2 separate regions of the Homo sapiens genome follow, and region 1 is linked to region 2. The links come from fine-mapping of genetic effects on gene expression. Tissue or cell type: lung. Region 2 holds a variant in brackets; the other region holds the start of a gene. All regions are shown on one strand. Distances are between the middles of the regions.

The links. PIP is the estimated chance that this variant, and not a neighbour inherited with it, causes the effect.
Region 1: it holds the start of SLC16A12, and the variant in region 2 is fine-mapped to the expression of SLC16A12 in lung (TOPMed, PIP 0.96).

What each region holds. Positions count from the first base shown.
Region 1 is chr10:89,531,889-89,542,051 of GRCh38, reverse strand. It overlaps SLC16A12 (solute carrier family 16 member 12), which reads left to right and starts at 6,458. Exons shown (of 8, transcript NM_213606.4): 1 at 6,458-6,610; 2 at 7,412-7,551. RefSeq lists an enhancer at 7,292-8,191.
Region 2 is chr10:89,496,266-89,506,428 of GRCh38, reverse strand. All of the region lies in intron 2 of SLC16A12 (solute carrier family 16 member 12), which reads left to right. Among named protein-coding and RNA genes, the nearest start is that of SLC16A12, 34 kb to the left of the region's middle. The variant G/T (reference allele first, on the strand shown) is at 5,244.

The DNA.
Region 1 (10,163 bases), 36 kb before region 2:
TAATCCTCAAAGCACCCGGAGAGAAAGGCACTATCGCCCCTGGGATATCACAGGAACTAAAAAAATATCAATAAATTTCCTCACAATCCTTCCTCCAAAGAATTGCTCTTAATATTATGAAAATTAAATAATATTAGAAAACTTAATTTGGAGACACAAAATAATAATATCAAACACATATTTCAGAAAAAAATGACATAAAAGTTTGCACAACCTAACCTAGTGGAAATATTTGGCAATATCTGAAAAAAATTTTGATTGTCACAACTAGGGCATTACTATTGGCACCTAATGGGCAAACACAAAAGATGCTGCTAAATGTTCTACAATGCACAGGGGAGCCCCACAACAAAGAATTGTCAGGCCTAAAATATCAGTAGCGCAGACCTTGAGGGTCTAACCTAATTAGCACAGAAACTGGGATATGTAGCTGCTCAACCCTTTATTTGTTATTTTCTATTTTTAGAGACTGGGTCTAGTTCTGTCGCCCAAGCTGGAGTGCTGTAACACGATAACAGCCTCGAACTCCTGTGCTCAAGAGATCCTCCTACCTCAGCCTCCCAAGTAGCTGGGGTTACAGGTGCTCACCACCATGTCTAGCTAATTTTTAAAATTTTTTTGTAGAGACGGGGTCTCAGTATGTTGCCTAGGCTGGTCTAGAACTCCTGGCCTCAAGTGATCCTCTGGTCTTAGCCTCCCAAAATGTTGGATTACAGGCATGAGCCACCATACCCATCCTCAATCCATGTTTTTTGAATAGTACTGGTGATTTTATTTTATAGATGAGAAATCTGAGGCTCGAGAGGTGGGATGTTAAGAAATTTGCAGCCAGGCGTGGTGGCTCACGCCTGTAATCCCAGCACTTTGGGAGGCCGAGGCGGGCGGATCACGAGGTCAGGAGATCGAGACCATCCTGGCTAACACAGTGAAACCCCCTCTCTACTAAAAATACAAAAAAAAAAATTAGCCTGGCGTGGTGGTGGGCACCTATAGTCCCAGCTACTCAGGAGGCTGAGGCAGGAGAATGTCATGAACCCAGGAGGCAGAGCTTAAATTGAGCCGAGATTGTACAACTGCACTCCAGCCTGGGCAATAGAGTGAGACTCCTTGTCAAAAAAAAAAAGGGAAAAAAAAAAAAGAAATTTGCTTAGTTTGTCTTGGTAAGAAGTGGTAGAAATGAGATTTTTTACTTCGGTTTTCTGATTTCAAATTCAATGCCTTTCAGTTATACCATGACTCCAGAAAGATAAATGGGTTAAAATGATGACATAGCTTTGAGTCATAGTAAATGAGAGAATGTTAGCTCCAGAGACTAAGTGACATCGGAGAAGAGAGTTGTTGGGATCTAAGAGCAGATTGTAGTGATGACTTGAGTTCCTGATATTTTAAAATCTCCAAGTGATGGTGTAGGGAGAATGCAAGTGAAAATATTCACTGGCTATCTGGCAACAAGAATTGGAGTTCAGAGGGAGGTCAGAACTGGAAACGCACTGCCGTTGACAGCAGGTATTAGCTACAGTCATGAGGCTGGGATGGAGATATACATTAAGAAAGGACAGTGGAAATAGGGGCTAAAGTCTAAGAAAGTGCTCATAGAAAAGAGTGGACTGGTGAAAGAGGAACAAAAAAAGATGATAAAGAAGGTGGACTCTAGGCTGGGCATGGTGGCTCACGGCTGTGGTCCCAGCACTTTGGGAGGCCAAGGCGGGAGGATCGCTTGAGCCCACAAGTTTGAGACCAGCCTGGGCAACATGGCAAAACTCTGTCCCTACAAAAAATACAAAAACTAGCCAGGCATGGTGGTGGGTGGCTGTAGTCCCAGCTACTTGGGAGGCTGAGGTGGGAGGATCTCTTGAACCTAGGTAATCAAGGCTGCAGTGAACTGTGACGATGCCACTGCACTCCAACCTGGGTGACAGAGTGAGGCTCTGTCTCAGAAGCAACAAAAGAAGAAAGAAAGAAAGAAAAAGAGGCAAAGAAAGAAGGAAAGGAAGAAAAAAGAGAGAGCCAGAGAAAAGAAAGGAAGGAAGGAAGGAAAGAAGGAAGGAAGGGTGAGAGAAAAGAAAGAAAGAAAGAGAGAAAGAAAGAAAGAAGAAAGAAAGAGAAAGAAGGAAGTAATGAAAGAAAGAAAAAAAGAAAAAAGAAAGAAAGAAAGAAAGAAAGAAAGAAAGAAAGAAAGAAAGAAAGAAAGAAAAATTTGTTTCTTGGTGTCTAAGGAAGAATTTCACTATTTCCTTGTCCATGTATTGCCCTAATCTGTACAGCTGACTACGTAAAATACTTGCATCTTATTTATGCTGTTTGTATTTAGTCCTAAAATCTTAATTAGTCATGAGAACAAAATTTCAAATTCTATTTAGGCAAAAGCCTTAAGGTTTCATCCTCAACCCCCAACCTTCCAGTAGCTTCTATCTTGACCTGGACACCCCAAATATTACTTATCTGTAGCCAATGTTCCCTTTTTTTCTGTACTGAGTCCACACATTCTTGTTTGACCAAATAACAGGAACAAACAATTCTTTTCATAATGGATGTACCCTAAGGTGTCAGGCTTCTCAGAATCCTATCTGAAAATTAATTCCACTGAACCATGGTGCAATAGGATTTTAGTTAACACACGTGTTATTTATTGGCTACAAATGGTAGGGATTTGACAAAATATTCTGTGCCTCCAGGCCAGAAAAGTACAAATAGTACTCAATTCTGAGTAGGGAAGAAGAGGAAGGGAGAAAGTTAGAACACAACTATTAATGCATGTGGAGGTACCAGATCAGCTGACCACATCAGCGAAAGGTTACTTAACTAATAATGATGTACCATTAATGCCATGTCCCTATTAAAGAAAAAAAATATTCAATGTCACTTGTTACAGCATGGTAAAGAAGACTATTCAGGACCATTGAGACAGATACAGGGACCACTACAACGAAGACTTGCAGTAGGGTAGAGAGATGGGGCTCCACTATGAATACAGCAGAGGAAAATCGGAATTTATAGCCAAGAAACAGGATATGGGACTCTAGTTAAATCGACCTAACAGGATTCTTACTAAAGACAGGCCAAGGTGATTAGATATCACCTGGAGGACAGTGGAGGATGAGGAACCCTTGGGTGATCAGTTGTCAATGGGAAGGGACGTTATTGCCAAACTGATTTTGCCGGGTTCTTTGATAAACTGGAATTTACAAGGAAATACACACATGGTCTTAGGAGAAAGTTCAGGAGCCTGACTAAAGTTTGGCCAAGGAAAAAAATCTTTGTCATTCCCCAATATTTTTAAGGTAAAAGACTATTAATACTAATAAGGATTAATATTTTTTACACATGTATAATATGCAAGGCATTGAATTAAATACATTCTATAGATTAACTCATTTTGATTATCACAAAGCCTCGATGTAGGTTTAATTTTCATTCTATTACTTGCTTTTAGACAGATGAAGTTCTGACTATGACTTGGAAAAGCTGGGTATCTGGGCTCATTTCTTTACCAAAATCCTGGCCTCTAAGCGTCACTGTCCAGTAGAACTTTCTGTGATGAAGAAAACGTTTTGAGTGCTATCCAGTATGGTAGACATTAGCCACATCTTGGAGTGAAGCACTTGAAAGGTGATTAGTGCAACAGACTAGTAGTAAAAAAGAAAAAAGCAAAACACACACAAGAAACCTCAATTTTAATTACGATTATAATTAATTAACTAAAATGTAAATAGCCATATTTTATAGCCGTGTTGGGACTGTGCAAACATAGCACATTTCCATCACTGTAGAAAATTCTGTTGGACAGTGCTATTTGGAAGAAATGTTGCTCCTTCCCTTTCCTCCTAGGTTGGATTCTAGGGTTCCTTTGCTTTGCTTTTCTTCTGCACAGCGATAGCAGTCCAACATTCTCCACCCCCAATCCTCCAGCCTCAGTGAAAGGAGATTGTTTTGCTTTGTGCATCTCCCTTTCTCCACTTCCATGCTGCCTGTCAGCAGCTATGTCAGGTCTTGAGCGTGGAACCCCAAAGGGGTAGGCACACAGAAGTGACCCGTCTGTATCCGGCACTGCCTATACGCATTGCACTCACCATCACCATCATCAACCCACAGTTACTGAACTCGTAAAGGATGAAAATCATCCTGCCAGAGATAGAATCAGACACACAAAATCTGAACTTCTAATGAAACAACAACATCAGTGACACAGCATTGAATAGAATAAACACAGTATTAGCTTTGGTCTTTGCTAGAGCCCCCTGTAAGTGGTGACTTAGACGAAAGGAAGCCTTGTGCGGTGTCCTAGTCTCCAAAACTTTAAAAACTGTTGTCCTACATTATTTAAATGGAAAGTGAGACTTATTTGCCACCCAAAGCAATGTTTAACTGAAAGAAGCATTTTTCTGAAACTCAAAGGTATTCAAGCCTTTAACCTAAAGACCTTCACGGCTGAGAGGTCAGGGCTCACTCATGGCAGCCTCTACATTTACAGGTTCATTTTCAATGCTAATGAATTCTTTTACAAGCTGTATTTGTTCTTTCTTTTGTGAGTTTTGAACATTTATTCACTAATCATCACTTAAATCTAACCTAGGGTTTTTTGCAAGTGAAAATAGGACTTAAATTCAGATTTATAGTTAAAGGGCAGGAAACTGAGAGGAGGGGGATGACTAAAAATAGCCAGAGGGTAAAATGAGAAAGGACTATACTAGACTATTTAAAAAAACCCCTGGCTTGCACAGTGGCTCAAGCCTGTAATCCCAGTGCTTGGGGAGGCTGAGGCAGGAGGATCCCTTGAGCCTAGGAGTTCGAGACTGCAATGAGCTATGATCGCACCACAGCACTCTAGCCTTAGCGACATAGTGAAATCCCTTCTTTAGAAAACAAACAAAACGAGACTCCTTCCCAAAAAAAAAAAAAAAAAAAACATACCTACGGTGCCTTGCTGCGTGGCAAATGCTCCCTACTGTTCATCAGTAACTCTTTGTCGGGCAGATCATGAGGTCAGGAGTTCGAGATCAGCCTGGCCAACATGGTGAAATCCCGTCTCTACCAAAGATACAAAAAATTAGCTGGGCGTGGTGGCACGCGCCCGTAATCCCAGCTACTCCGGAAGCTGAGGCAGGAGAATCGTTTGAACTAGGGAGGCGGAGGTTGCAGTGAGCCAAAATCGCACCACTGCACTCCAGCCTGGGCGACAGAGCGAGACTGCTTCTCAAAAATAATAATAATAATAATTCCAAAAAGCCTAATTCATTTTGAAATTTTGACATACAGCGAAATCACCAGGGAATCTTGCAAAAAATGCAGATTCTGATCCGCGGTTGGGCCTGAGATTCCGCATTTTTAACAAGCACCCAGGTGATGACCTCGCTGTTGGTCTACGGGCCACTCTTGAAGAAGTGAGGACGTAGGCTCCAAGATATTGGAACCAGACCTTGTCAGTTCAGAGGCCTTGCTTCTGACAAGGAGAGGACTTTACAGAAAGTTCGCCTGGAACCTGTCCTACGTGGGGTACGTCCTGGCAGCTCCCTTTTCAGGCTTTGAGTCAACGTTTGGGGAATTGTATTATGTACCGGGCGCCTACACCTCACTCATTTCATACTCGCAGCAACAACATGAAGTGGGCGCTATCATCCTTTGTTTTACAAGCAAAAGTGAGGCTCAGAGAGTTAAATTGCCCAAGGTTATGAGATTTTCAGATGCGTTGAACCCAGGTCCTTTTGACTCCAAGAGATAACGCTTTTCACTAGCATTCTGGAGCTTCAGTTTCCTGTGCTGTGAAATGGGAAGGATTGGCTAGCAGGGTCCGGATCCCTGCCAGATACACCTAAAGGAGGCCTTGTATTTTTTCTCGAGATCTTGCTCTTTGACCCTGAGGGGAAAAGTTCTTTTTGGGAACACCGAGCTCCCCTCGGCTTGCCGAGGTCAGGGGTCATGGCTCTTCCCGGGGAGGGTCCGGCAGTCCTAGAGCGGTTTGGCTGGGGACACAGAAAGCCGGTGCATTACATAACCGCGAGACGTCCCTCCTCCGCTGCGCCCCTCGCCCCTAGCCAAGCCACAGTACTTAGAGCGGATCCCCGCGCTAAATCCTCTTTGCCGGCCAGGCAGAGTCCCCGGCGGAGCTGGCGGGGCTGAATGAGCCGGTGCATTTCGAAGGCCGAGCACTGGGATTTTCCGCGCTACGCTTCCCTCTCCCGGCGTTGCCAGCTAGGCCCCCGGCCCCAGCCTCGCCGGCGCCTCCGCCCAGTCCGCTCCCCGCCCCACCGAAGCGCGGATCGCGCAGCCTGGGGCCCGGGAAGGGGCCACTGCGCAGGGACGCGGCTCGGCGGGTGCGCCCCGGGGGCATGTCCGCGCGCTACCGCCAGGGCTGCAGTGGTCCCGGCGAGGTGAGGAGGCGGCGGGGCCGGGCTGGGGGCGGGTGTGGCAGGAGGGCGGGCGGGGCATGGGGGTGGTCTGCGCGCTCTGGGCGGGCTGCAGAGCGCTGGAGCGCTGGAGCTCTGGGCTGTCCCGGGCTCAGTCTCGCCGGCGGCCCCCGCTCCCGGATCCCCAGCGCCCTGGCCAAGAAGCTTCCTCGGCTCCCCCTCTTCCCTCTCCCTGACACGGTTGTGCAGAGGGCGCGGTGGCTCAGGTGACACGGGCATCCTTCAAGGAAGGGCGGCGGGACGGCGGGGCGCTGGCGCTGTCGTTGGAGCTGGAGGAGGACGGGGACCCTCCATTCTCCGCTGCCCTAGCGCCCATCCCGCGCCGGGAGCCTGGGACCCTAACTTGGGTGCGTCGGCGCGCAGCTTGGGTTGGGAGGGAGACACGTGCTCACTTGCCCTGTCTGGGTTGGGTCTGCGCTGCGGCCGAGTTTTTGGGCAGGTGGCTGGAGAACGAGCGGCTTTGATCTCCATCTCTTGTGGTTTTCAAATGCAGACTTCTCGGTGGAATAGAGACCATCTTTCTTCTGGATTTTATGTTTATAGTACATTTTAAAAATCTCTCCCCGTCCCCCACCTCAGACAATAATATTTATTTCCCGTGTGTGCTATATTAAAAACACACCGGCTTTCAGTGGATTGAACTCAATTTCTCAGTTGCTTCTTGTCCACAAATAAACCAGTGATACCTGTATTGTGGACTCGGAAAAGCGTTCGTAACAAAATTTTGAAGCACAATTTCAGTAAGTCCTGGGGCTATTTGGTTAGTCTTCCGTTTTCACACATCAGCATTCTAAACCTCTTATACTATTTATTTATTTAGAGACAAGGTCTCGCTCTGTCGCCCAGGCTGGAGTGCAGTGGCGCGATCTCAGCTCATTGCAACCTCCGCCTCCCCGGCTCCAACGATCCTCCCTCCCCAGCATCTGGAGTAGCTGGGACTAAAGGTGCGCGCCACCACGCCCGGCTAATTTTTGGATTTTTTTTTTTTTTTTTTTTTTTTTTTGCAGATACAGGATTTCGACATATTGGCCGGTTTGCTCTCGAGCTCCTGGGCTCAAGCGATCTGCCCGCTTTAGCCTCCCAAAGTGATGGGATTACAGGCGTGAGCCACCGTGCCTGGCCATAATTTTTAAAAATGTCTAGTCAGGTGAGTCCTGCCAGGAAACTGGTTAAACACTCTCCTTTTGAAGAGCCTCTAATTAGTTCATCCTACCTGGTTCTTTGCTCAGAGCTAGGCACTCCCGCGGCGTCACCAGCTTAGCCCAGGGGGAAAATCTTCCGGCCTTTCAAATTCAGAAACACATTCGCTCCACAGGTGTAAGCTCGCTAACAGTTAAAATCATCAGCTAGCTGCCCTTGCATTGTTTGTCGCTCCCCCTCCATAAATGTCGTGCCAAACTGTGGCTAATGGTGTTTGACATCCTCCACCCCCTGCGCCCCCAAGGTGACCGGATGTTTGCTGAAGAAATGAAGGATGTAAAAGAGTAGTGGTAGTAATTAGGTGAACTGGATTTAGTCACTTATAATTACAGGGTTTAGAGAAACTTTGAAACTGAAAGGCTTTGGAGACCATCTACTAAATTCAAACTCTTCACGTTACAGCCCAGGAAGCTCAGATCCAGATTGGCAAGGATTGGCTGAATTCATACTGTTAACTGGTGATGGAATCAACACTAGAATCCAGATCTTCTCATTCCCACCTAACTCAGTTTTCCAAGGCATATTGCCTCTAGGCATTTTGAGCAAAAATAATATGACTAGCATCACCTAATCACATCATTTTCCTGTTCTTATTTTTTATGTTTTTTTTTTTTAACTGATGGGATTCTGAAATAGATGAGAGGTTGATTTAATCAAATTGCTTTTGTGGCACAATTTTTAAAGGTGCAAACCTTTAATTTTAAGTAATATTTTAAATTATTTTTATATTATGGATATACAGATACTTCTCAGGTGAATGCCCAGAAGAAGAAAATTAGTCCAAATAGATGGGAGTAACTCTACCCCCATCTTTCCTTGGAGTCTTTTCTGATTCTCAGCACCCTCTATGGTAATGATCGATCAGAAGTAAAAACATGAATTATAGTGTTGAAGTGTTTTATATGAGGACTGTTTGTTTATTGTGATTAATACTATGACCAAAACAAAGCTAAGAAAGGAGTTTCAAAGTGACTTATTTAACATTGCATTGCACTGCATATTTTTCAATTTAGTTCAATTGAGCAGATATTTATTGAGTGCCTACTGTATGCCTAGTGCTGTTCTGGGCATTTGGGATATGTCAATGAACAAAACAAAGAACTTTGATCCTATAGAGCTCAAGTTGCAATTTATTCACTAGAATTTTTCCAGGATTTCTTAGGCAGGTACAAGAGAATTTCAGTTTTACCTAAGCAGGAAAATAAACATAAGTGATCCAAACTATCTTCCTTCCAATCCTGCAATTCTGAGAATCTTATAATCATGGAAAAAAAAAAAACTAAAAACGACAACAACAACAACAAAAAAACAAATTCAGGTGAAGTTACTTTGACTTTTATGAGCTGACATTTTACTGTAAGTGAATTGCAGTTCCCACATTTGGTTATTTAATATATGTTCATTTGGAGTCAATGAAATTACATTTCCTTTATTGCAGGGAGATCACCTTGGTGACTAAACTTGAAGCACGGGATGATTTGTTTTCTTAAGAGTGTTAGTGGTACCATGTTAGTATTGGAGACTAATTAAATTAGTTTATAAGATGTTGCTTTTTATTTATTTATGAAGATGGTGTTCTGTTGTTATTTTGTCTCACTTTACATTTTGTCCCCCACTTTCCTCCATATTCATAGACTATTAGACATTCCAGTTTTAAGCATTTTCTAATTCTCTCAATTGCTTTTTCTTCAAAACAGCATAGTTTGCAAGCTCAGGCATGTTTATTGTTTTTAACAAAGGCTTATCGAAATGAACTTGGCAGTTTTTCAGTCGTATACAGCCAAAGAAAAGTATTCAGTGCCGCTTTTGGGGTTGTTTATGCATTCCTCACCTAACCAGTTGCTTTGCTTTTAAAAATTGCCAATTTGGAAGCTATTTTCTTATGAGTACCTTTCCAGTGTATATAAAAAGTCACCCATTGAAATGATATAATAATTTAATTGATGAAAACTAAATACACAGTTGAAGAGGTTGGGGGATTTTGAACAGAAAGATTTTCCCTCTGATAATATTTTTAATGTGCTCTACATCAAAGGACATCAGAAAGTGTCATTATCTAACAATGTCCTGTTTGAAGGTGGTGTCTGTTGAACATTTGGGGAACAGTCACAATTTCTGATGCATGCTAGGCACCTGGAGTAGCTGATTTTTTTTTCTTCATTCACCCACCACTGTGCCCCATCAGATACATATCCTTCCTTCATTTACCGCGCATTGACGAGTAGGGTTAATTGCTGTAGCCAGGTAAGATGTTGCATGAAATTAATTAATTATTTAATTAGTGTGCTCATTCATTTATTAATTTAATGAATATTTATTGAACTTCTACTTCTTATTAAAAGATTTGTATAAGGATTTGTGTGAAGACTGTGTTTTGAGCATCTCTTTTCTGGTGCTGGTGACAGCAGGACGTGTAAAGACACAGAACATGCCTCTGATGCAGCTTACATCCTGGTATGGAAGAGAGGACATTGTATGGCTAGCTATCATACCGATTCAAACTACCATAAGAGATGCATAAGTACTTTGGGAATTAAAAGGAAGAAGAGAGAGCAGGCA
Region 2 (10,163 bases):
TTGCCAGGTATCACCAGCGGAGGCTGCGGAACAGCAAATATTGCTGCCTGATCCTTCCTCTGGAAGCTTCGTCCTAGAGGTTCACCTGCCAGATGCCAGCCAGAGCTCTCCTGTATGAGGTATCTGTCAGCCCCTACTGGGAGGTATCTCCCAGTCAGGCTACATGGGGTCAGGGACCCAGTTGAGGAGGCAGTCTGTCTGTTATCAGAGCTCGAACACTCTGCTGGGAGAACTACTGCTCTCTTCAGAGCTGTCAGGCAGGGACGTTTAAGTCTGCTGAAGCTGTGCCCACAGCTGCGCCTTCCCCCAGGTTCTCTGTCCCAGGAAGATGGGGGCTTTATCTATAAGTCCCTGAGTGGGGCCGCTGCCTTTTGTTCAGAGATGCCCTGCCCACAGAGGTGGAATCTAGAGAGACAGTTGGCCTTGCTGAGCTGTGGTGGGCTCCACCCAGTTCGAACTTCCAAGTGGCTTTGTTTACACTGTGAGCATAATACCGCCTACTGAAGCCTCAGCAATGGCAGACACCCCTCCCTCTGCCAAGCTCCAGCATCCCAAGTCGATCTCAGACTGCTGCGCTAGCCACGAGAATTTCAAGCCAATGGATCTTAGTTTGCTAGGCTCTGTGGGCGTGGAACCTGCTGAGCCAGGCACCAGAGGGAATCTCCTGGTCTTCCGGTTGCGAAGACCATGGGAAAAGTGCAGTATCTGGGGAGGAGTGTACTGTTCCTTCTGGTACAGTCTCTCATGGCTTCCCTTGGCTGGGAAAGGGAAATCCCCTGACCCGTTGAGCTTCCTGGGTGAGGCAGCACCCCACTCTGCTTCGGCTCACCCTCTGTGGGCTGCACCCACTGTCCAATCAGTCCCAGTGAGATGAACCAGGTACCTCAGTTGGAAATGCAGAAATCACCCATCTTCTGCATCAGTCTCGCTGGGAGCTGCAGACCAGAGCTGTTCCTATTCAGCCATCTTGCTGGAATTCTTGTTTTTTTTTGTTTTTTTGTTTTTTGAGATGGAGTCTCACTCTGTCACCCAGGTTGGAGTGCAGGAGTGCAGTGGCATGATCTCGGCTCACTGCAACCTCCACCTCCCAGGTTTAAGAGATTCTCCTGCCTCAGCCTCCCGAGTAGCTGGGACTACAGATGTTGCCACCACGCCAGGCTAATTTTTTGTATTTTTAGTAGAGATGGGGTTTCACCATGTTAGCCAGGATGGTCTCAATCTCCTATTTACATACATTATAAGTATATAAAATAATTATTCAAAGTATTCCAAATAAAAGTAGTGCCTATTTGGGTGGCAGATGTGGATGATTTTTATTGTCTTTTTGCTCCATTTTCTCCTTTTTCTGCATCAATTATGTATAACATGTATAATTAAAAATGCTTGACACTCAGAATCAAGCTGTATCAATTCAGAGGTTGATGGCAACCCCCATTTGCTCTGTCTGCTCAGCCTTCACCTGGGTCTTCATCCTTCTTGCCTTGAGACTTATGCTCCCTGGCACACTCTGTACCCTGGGTCCCTCCGATCATGCTCTGGTGCTCGGGGCTGCATGTTCCTCTGCCCAGTGAAGCAGAACCAGAGAACCAGGGCTTGTTGGCAGTGGATTAGACTCTAGAAACATTGTAATCAGGCCCCAGCATATGTCTTTCTGCTTCTCTCATCCACCTTCCTCCCCCATCTTGGTTTTTAGCATAAAATAAATCTCCTTTTTGGGTTTGTTCACTCACCAAGGTTTTGGCTGGTCATCTTTGTTAATTACAACTAGCCTGGGAGAGTACTTTCTTCCTAGTCTGTAACACTGTATATTCTGTAATTTTCTGAATACTTTTAGGCCTTATAGTGAGTATTTATGTCAACATCAAAAGCAATAATGGTTCCGTATGTACCAACTTGGAAAAAGCGGAAAATCTATTCATGGAGCCAGTTACTACTTTTATGAAAATAAGGGTTGTCCAGGGTACAATAATATATATATTTTTTCTTTCACTTACTGTGTTTGATTATGGGCCAGATGAAGGGTGGGTTGGAAAGTATGTTTGTGTTTTAGGGTTAGAGAACTTGATGAACCAGGGAACAGGTAATAAGGAAAGGCATTAGTTAAGAGCCTCTTTCCAACTAGTTAATGGACTCTTTACATGAGATTGACTGTTTTAAGCAATGATCAGTGACCTTTTGGGGAGCTTTTTTTGTTTTGTTTTGACAGGCTGATTCTGGCTGCTTAGTTTCAGGACCAAGAATTTGAAGCAACGGAAAAGAGACTTTCAGAGCTGTTTGAACTTGAACTATTTTGTGTAGATATGGGAAAGAGTGGTAAAATCTGATGACTAATTTTGAGGCCTCATGGAGATGGGAGCTGAAGCTGAGAAAATTGTGTATTGGGGAGGCACAAGAGTAAAATTCCATTTCTTAATTATTTTGTAACTGAACAAGACATTGCTGTTTATTTCCTCTCAACATGTCTTCCTTGTGCTGATTTCTTGCAGACTTCTCAAATGAGAAGCATTTGATACCCTGGGGTTTTGGCTTGCTCTCGACTTCCTCCTTCACTTCCAGCCTCTGGTGATAGACTTGTCTTCCTCCACAGCCTCTGCTCAGACCTCCCACTCCTTCCTGTTGCTGTGGCCCCAGCTGGCTACAGTGGCCTCTGTGGCCCAAATTGTATGGGAACAATTGCGGACTCCACCACAAGCATCTTTCTTTCCAGTCTCTTCTCAGTCTTATTGTGGACTTGCCTTCTCCAGCGACTCTGAAAACACCCACCCTTCTTGACTCACCTGGCCCCATGGTCTTTTCAGGCTACTACTTCTGACTTACCTGTCCACATCTCTTCTTTATTTGGGCACATCTAGAAATTCATATGCTCCATGCCCTTACTGGACTTCGCCTTCTTTCTCTAACCCCACAGTGTGAAATCACTTCATATTTCATCTACTTCAATCATGCTGTACATCTGCATGGAAAAGGCAGAGAGCTATTAAGAGAGAGGTCTTGGGCAGGTTAATGGGATTTTATGGGGACCTTTTATAATTCTACGTGGGATTGGAACAGCAACTATGGATTAAAGGGCATTGCATTCATTGTTTGTGGGTTTTCCTATTAAAGTGAGTCACCACCTTTTTAATCTTTTTCAAATAAAACAAGGCCTATGTTTACATGAGGATGCTAATTAAGGACCCACCACTTTAGTAAGGCATATTTAATGTAAAAGAAAAATAACGTGAAAAAGAAAAGGTAGGAGTCAATTATGTGAGGAATAAGTGACTCTGATGTGTTTACAATTTACTAAGATTTGTTATGCAAAGAGAATATTGCCTTGTTCTCTCTCATCCTATTGTTTCTAGTGACTTGGGGCTGCTTTTGAGAACATTTACTGGAGAGATATGAACTAAGTGCTTGTCTGTTTTGACAAGGTACTTATTACCAAATAGGAACCCGCTGATCCTGATCATAGATTGCAGTTTTGATTGTAGATAGCGCACATGTTTCCTACAAGCTTTGCTGATCACCATTGCTCATCTTCTCAGCCTTTTATTAAGAGATAGGAGAAAGCAGACTGTTGGCTTCCTTGGACAGATGGAAGCCTAGTTGACATGAAGTTGGGGAATTCCTGATCCTCTGCCAAATTAACATTTATGAATCATGTTGGCTTCAATCTCTGACAACCAATATGATTTGGCAGCTGGAAACTGAAATGCACACTCCTTATGGAAGGGGTGTTGACTTTAGCAGTGTCCGACACATGTGCAGCCAAGATGACTGATGTTTATTTGCTTCTATAGTCCTCAAGGCTCAAGGCACATGACACAGTTTTGATAGCTGTCCAGTGCATGGCTCTGAAATGCTGCAAACTCCTGGGCAAGCTGCTGAGTTCTGCTCAGAAGCTTTACCATAAGTAGGTGAATGCATGCAAGATCTAGTTCTCAGTTGTATCAGGAGTTTCTGTGGGCATCACTTTTTTGTTTTTTTGTTTTTTGTTTTTTTGAGATGGAGTCTTGCACTGTTGCCCGGGCTGCAATGGCACGATCTTGGCTCACTGCAACCTCTGCCTCCTGGGTTCAAGCAATTCTTCTGCCTCAGCCTCCCAAGTAGCTGGGATTATAGGCTTCCACCACCATGCCTGGCTAATTTTTTTTATTTTTAGTAGAGACGGGGTTTCACCATGTTGGACAGGCTGGTCTCGAACTCCTGACCTCATGATCTGCCCACCTTGGCTTCACAAAGTGCTGGGATTATAGGTGTGAGCCACCGCACCCGGCCGGGCATCACTTTTGCCTGAATTCCAGCATGAAATGGTCATTGTGCTGTATACTACCCTACATCCTCCCTAACTGAGACAGTGACAGTTTTCAATCTGGGCTGTGTCAGCAGCCAAACTAGATAACTTAAAAGCAACACAGTAAGGATCAAATTGTCTTCAATTCATGAGACAATTCGTTTTCCAGTTTTGACAGGTATAGGTATTTATTGGGGAATTTTTAAAATATATGTTAGGCATGTTCTAGGTACTGGGAATCCAGCCATGAAATAACATAGGCAAGTGTCCCTCCTGCATGGAGCTTACACTTTAGTAGTGAAGACAAATAATAAACAAATGAGCAAATGAGACAACTTCAAATAGTGATAAATATGCTAGGAAGAAAATACAACAGCCTAATTTATTATTATTATTATTTTTGAGATGAAGTCTTGCTCTGTCGCCCGGGCTGGAGTGTACTGGTGTAATCTTGGCTCACTGCAACCTTCATCTCCTGGGTTCGAGTGATTCTCATGCCTCAGCCTCCTGAGTAGCTGGGACTACAGGCATGCACTGCCACACTCAGCTAATTTTTGTATTTTTAGTATAGATGGGGTTTTGCCATGTTGACCTTTCCCCACTTTATGTTTTTGTTTGCTTTGTCAAAGATCAGTTGGCTGTAAGTATTTGAGTTTATTTCTGGGTTCTCTATTCTGTTCTGTTGATCTATACTAGTACCTGCTTTTATACTAGTACCATGCTGTTTTGGTAACTATGGCCTTATGGTATAGTTTGAAATTGGATAATGTGATGCCTCCAGATTTGTTCTTTTTGCTTAGTCTTGCTTTGGCTATGTGGACTGTTTTTTGATTTCATATGAAGCTTAGAATTATTTTTCTAATTCTGTGAAGAATAATGGTGGTATTTTGATGGGCATTGCATTGAATTTGTAGATTGCTTTTGGCAGTATGGTCATTATCACAATATTGATTCTACCCATCCATGA[G/T]CATGGGATGTGTTTCCATTTCTTTGTGTCATCTATGATTTCTCTGAGCAGTGTTTTGTAGTTTTCCTTGTAGTGGTCTTTCACCTCCTTGGTTAGGTATATTCCTAAGGTTTTGTTTTTTTTGTTTTTTGTTTTTGCAGCTATTGTAAAAGGGGTTGAGTTCTTGATTTGATTATCAGCTTGGTAGCTGTTGGTGTACAGAAGAGCTACTGATTTGTGTACATTAGTTTTGTGTCTGGAAACTTTGCTGAGTTCTTTTATCAGTTCTAGGAGCTTTCTGAAGGAGTCTTTAGGGTTTTCGAGGTAAACAATCATATCATCAGCAAACAGTGACAGTTTGACTTCTTCTTCACTGATTTGGATGTGCTTTATTTCTTTTTCTTGTCTGATTTCTCTGGCTAGGACTTCCAGTACTATGTTGAAGAGGAGTGGTGAGAGTGGACATCCTTGTTCCAGTTCTCAGCAGGAATGCTTTCAACTTTTCCCCACTTAGTATAATGTTGGCTGTGGGTTTGTCATAGATGGATTTTATTACATTGAGGAATGTCCCTTGTATGCCGATTTTGCTGAGGATTTTAATCATAAAAGGATGCCGGATTTTGTCGAATGCTTTTTTTTCATCTATTGATATGACCATGTGATTTTTGTTTTTAATTCTGTTTATGCGGTGTATCACATTTATTGGCTTGCATATGTTAAACCATCCCTACATTCACACTCCTGCTATGAAAACCACTTGATCATGGTGGATTATCTTTTTGATATGTTGTTGGATTCAGTTAGCTAGTATTTTGTTAAGGCTTTTAGCATCTATATTCATCAGGGATATTAGCCTGTAGTTTTCTTTTTTTGTTATGTCCTTTCCTGGTTTTAGTATTAGGGTGATACTGGCTTCATAGAATGATTTAGGGAGGGTTCCCTATTTCTCTATCTTGTGGAATAGTGTCAACAGGATTGGTACCAATTCTTCTTTGAATGTATGGTAGAATCCTGCTGTGAATCCCTCTGGTCCTGGACTTTTTTTTGTTGGTATTTTTAAAATTACCATTTCAATCTTGCTGCTTGTTATTGGTGGGTTTCTAATTCTTCCTGCTTTGAGCTAGGAGGTTGTATCTTTCCAGGAATTTATCCATCTCCTCTAGGTTTTCTAGTTTATGCCCATAAAGGTATTCATAATAGCCTTGAATGATCTTTTGTATTTCTGTAGTGTCAGTTGTAATATTTCCCATTTTGTTTCTTATCGAGCTTATTTGGATTTTCTCTCTTCTTTTCTTGGTTAATCTTAGTAATGGTCTAACAATTTCATTTATCTTTTCAGAGAACCATCCTTTTGTTTTATTTATCTTTCGTATTTTTTTTGTTTCAATTTCATTTAGTTCTGCTCTGATCTTGGTTATTTCCTTTCTTCTGCTGGGTTTGGGTTTGGTTTGTTCTTGTTTCTCTAGTTCCTTGAGGTGTGACCTTAGATTGTCTGTTTGTGCTCTTTTAGACTTTTTGATGTAGGCATTTAGGGCTATGAACTTTCCTCTTAGCACTGACTTTGCTGTATCCCAGAGGTTTTGATAGGTTGTGTCACTATTGTCATTCAGTTCAAATAACTTTTTAATTTCTATCTTGATTTCATTTTGACCTGATGATCATTCAGGAGCAGATTATTTAATTTCCTTGTATTTGCAGGATCTGGGCTCACCGTAACCTCCACCTCCCAGGTTCAAGTGATTCTCCTGCCTCAGCCTCCCGAGTAGCTGGGATTACAGGCACACACCACCACACCCAGCTAATTTTGTATTTTTAGTAGAGACGAGCGTTCTCCATGTTGGTCAGGCTGGTCTTGAACTCCTGACCTCAGGTGATCCACCCATCTCGGCCTGCCAAAGGGCCAGGATTACAGGCAAGAGCCACCGTGCCCAGCTTGATTGATTTTAATAAATAAAAATATTTATTTCATTGATATCGCTTTTTTTGATTTCCTTAAATTGGGCTTTGTCTTTCTCTGGTGCCTCCCTGATTAGCTTAATAACTAACCTTCTGAATTATTTTCCAGGTAAATCGGGGATTTCTTCTTGGTTTGGATCCATTGCTGGCAAGCTAGTGTGATTTTTTGGGGGATGTTAAAGAGCCTTGTTTTGTCATATTACCAGAGTTGGTTTTCTGGTTCCTTCTCATTTGGGTAGGCTCTGTCAGAGGGAAGATCTAGGGCTGAAGGCTGTTCACATTCTTTTGCCCCATGGGGTGTTCCGTTGATGTAGTACTCTCCCCTTTTCCTATAGATGTGGCTTCCTGAGAGCCAAGCTGTAGTGATTGTTATCTCTCTTTTGGATCTAGCCACCCAGCAAGTCTGCCAGGCTCCGGGCTGGTACAGGGGGTTGTCTGCACAGAGGCCTATGATGTGGAGCGTCTGTGGGTCTCTCAGACATGGATACCACCACAGTATTTGGGGTGTCTCCCAGGTCCTGCAGGAGCAATCCACCTCCTTCAGAGGGTCTGTGGGTCCTCTCGGGTTTCCTGATTTATTCCTGCAGTCATTCTGGAACAAAAATTCATAATGCGAGTCTCCTCAAGCTGTTCTGTCTGCCCGAGTCGGAGCTGCAAAAACTCTCTGATCATGACTGCCCTTTCTATTTCTTAACATTTTAAAATATAATATTCCAGGTGTTTTGTAAATATTTTACATACTTGATAAAAATGAGGTCAACCATTTGTTGTTTTTCAACTTCATTTGTTCATATAATTTTTGGAACACATTCCCTTTGTATCTATATTTCAGCCAATTGTACATAAACAGGGAATCATTGTTAATGTAATTAATCTCAATCAATTGCACTAGAAATGTTTCCTTCTCTTCTCTTCTCTTTCAACACAGTCTCTTTTTGTTAACCAGGCTGGAGTGCAGTGGCATGATCGGGGCTCACCACAGCCTTGACCTTCTGGGCTCAAGCCATCTTCCCACCTCACCCCCACCCTCTACCACCCCTACCCTACCCACCTCCGAGTAGCTGGGACTACAGGCACGCACCACTACACTTGGCTAGATTTTTGTATTTTTAGTAGAGTTTGGGTTTCGCCATGTTGCCCAGGCTAGTCTTGAACTTGTGGGCTCTGCCTGCCTTGGCCTTCTAAAGTGTTGGGATTACAGGTATGAGCCACCGCGCCTGGCCCCTACTATCTTTATTTTTACTAGTTATAAAGATAAGAATTGTTTCTTGTTAAGTTTTCAAATAGTACAGACGTAGATAAAATAATTATACCTACTTCTAACTTTATCTCATGTAGTTTGTGTGCCCTTATGATTTAAGATATTGGAGGTATAATTACATAGTAACATACATACATAAAATATAGCTCTGAGACCTCAGTAGGAAATGTTGGTTTATATCTTATTAGAAAGAATCCTCTTTAATGAAGATCGACTTGGCCTTAATGAAATCATGTTGGGTTTTTTTTTCCTCTTTCTGATCTCTACCCCTATTAATTCTTTAATCAGTAACTGCACAGAGGATAGAAATAGCATGATGAGGATGTATGCTAGATTGGAAGTCAGGAGACTTGAGTTTAATTCTGTTCTGCCTCTCACCTGCTATGTAGGTTTAGGGAGATTTGAGTTCCAGAGGCCCTAATACAGTGCTGTTTCCCCCACACCATGTAGAATTCTTCCTCTGTGCTTTCCAGTTATCCTTTTGTACCACTGTGCTTTTATTTTTCATTTGAAAAGACCTGGTCTTTGAGTTCCCAGCAATTTGGTCCAAAAAATATATAATCACACTAGTTCAGTTTTAAAACATATACATTTTTGTTTGTATAAATAGTATACGTTAACCTCTGAATTTCTTTGTTTCTACCTGTATTTTTTGAGAATAAATAAAAACCAAAAGAAACTTGCTTTTTAAATCAATCTGATGTGTTTGTAGTGATATCTCATGTGTGTATATGTGTTTAATTAATAGACTTTATTTCTTAGAGCAGTTTTAAGTTTACAAACAGAAAGTACAGAGTTCCCGTATACTCTGTGTCTGCCCCCATATCCCACTCTCTGGTTTTTCCTGTCATTAACATCTTGACTTGGTGTTGTACACATATTACAACTGATGAACGAATAATGATACTTTATTATTAACTAAAGCCTATACTTTACATTCAGGTTCACACTTTTCTCATTGTGTTTTAAAACTGTATTTCTCTGATTAAAAATGAGCATCTTTTCATGTGTTCATTGGCCATTGGGTTTCCTTTTGTGTGGATTGCCTGTCAAAGTCCTTTTTCTATTGGAGTGTCTTTTTAATAGGAGTTCCTTTTACATTCTTGATAGGAGTCCTATGTTGGTTATACATGTTGCAGATATATTCTTCCACTCTCTGTCTTGCTTTTTTATTGTCTTAATAACGTCTTTTGAAATTATTAATTTTAAGGTAGTCAAATGTGAAAGTGTTCTTCTCCTTTATAATTGGAGTTCTTTGAACCCTGTTTTAGAATTCTTTCCATACCTCCAAATCATGAGGATGTTAGCTCCTTAAAGCTTAATTATTTTGCCTTTTCATATGCAGTTGTATAATACACCTGAAATCAACTTTTGTGAATGGTGCAAGATTGAGGGCTCTGAGTTTTTTCAGTAATTTCATTGGACGCTCAAATGTGGGAAATGTTTTTATAGCATTTCTTTCATCATCTATTTCCCCTTGTTTTCTTAGTTTCTGGGACTCCTATTAATTGAATATTAACTCTTCTGAACTAATTCACTAGTTTTCCTGTTCCTTCTAATAGTCTACATCTTTGTGTTCTTGTTTACTTTATGGGATAGTTCTTCTTCTGATCCTTCCATTAAATTTTCAATTTCCACAATTATATTTTAATTCCAAGCATTCTTTTTTAGTTTCCAAATGTTTCTTTCTTTATAGCCTCCTCTTCTTGTTTTATTTATGCATT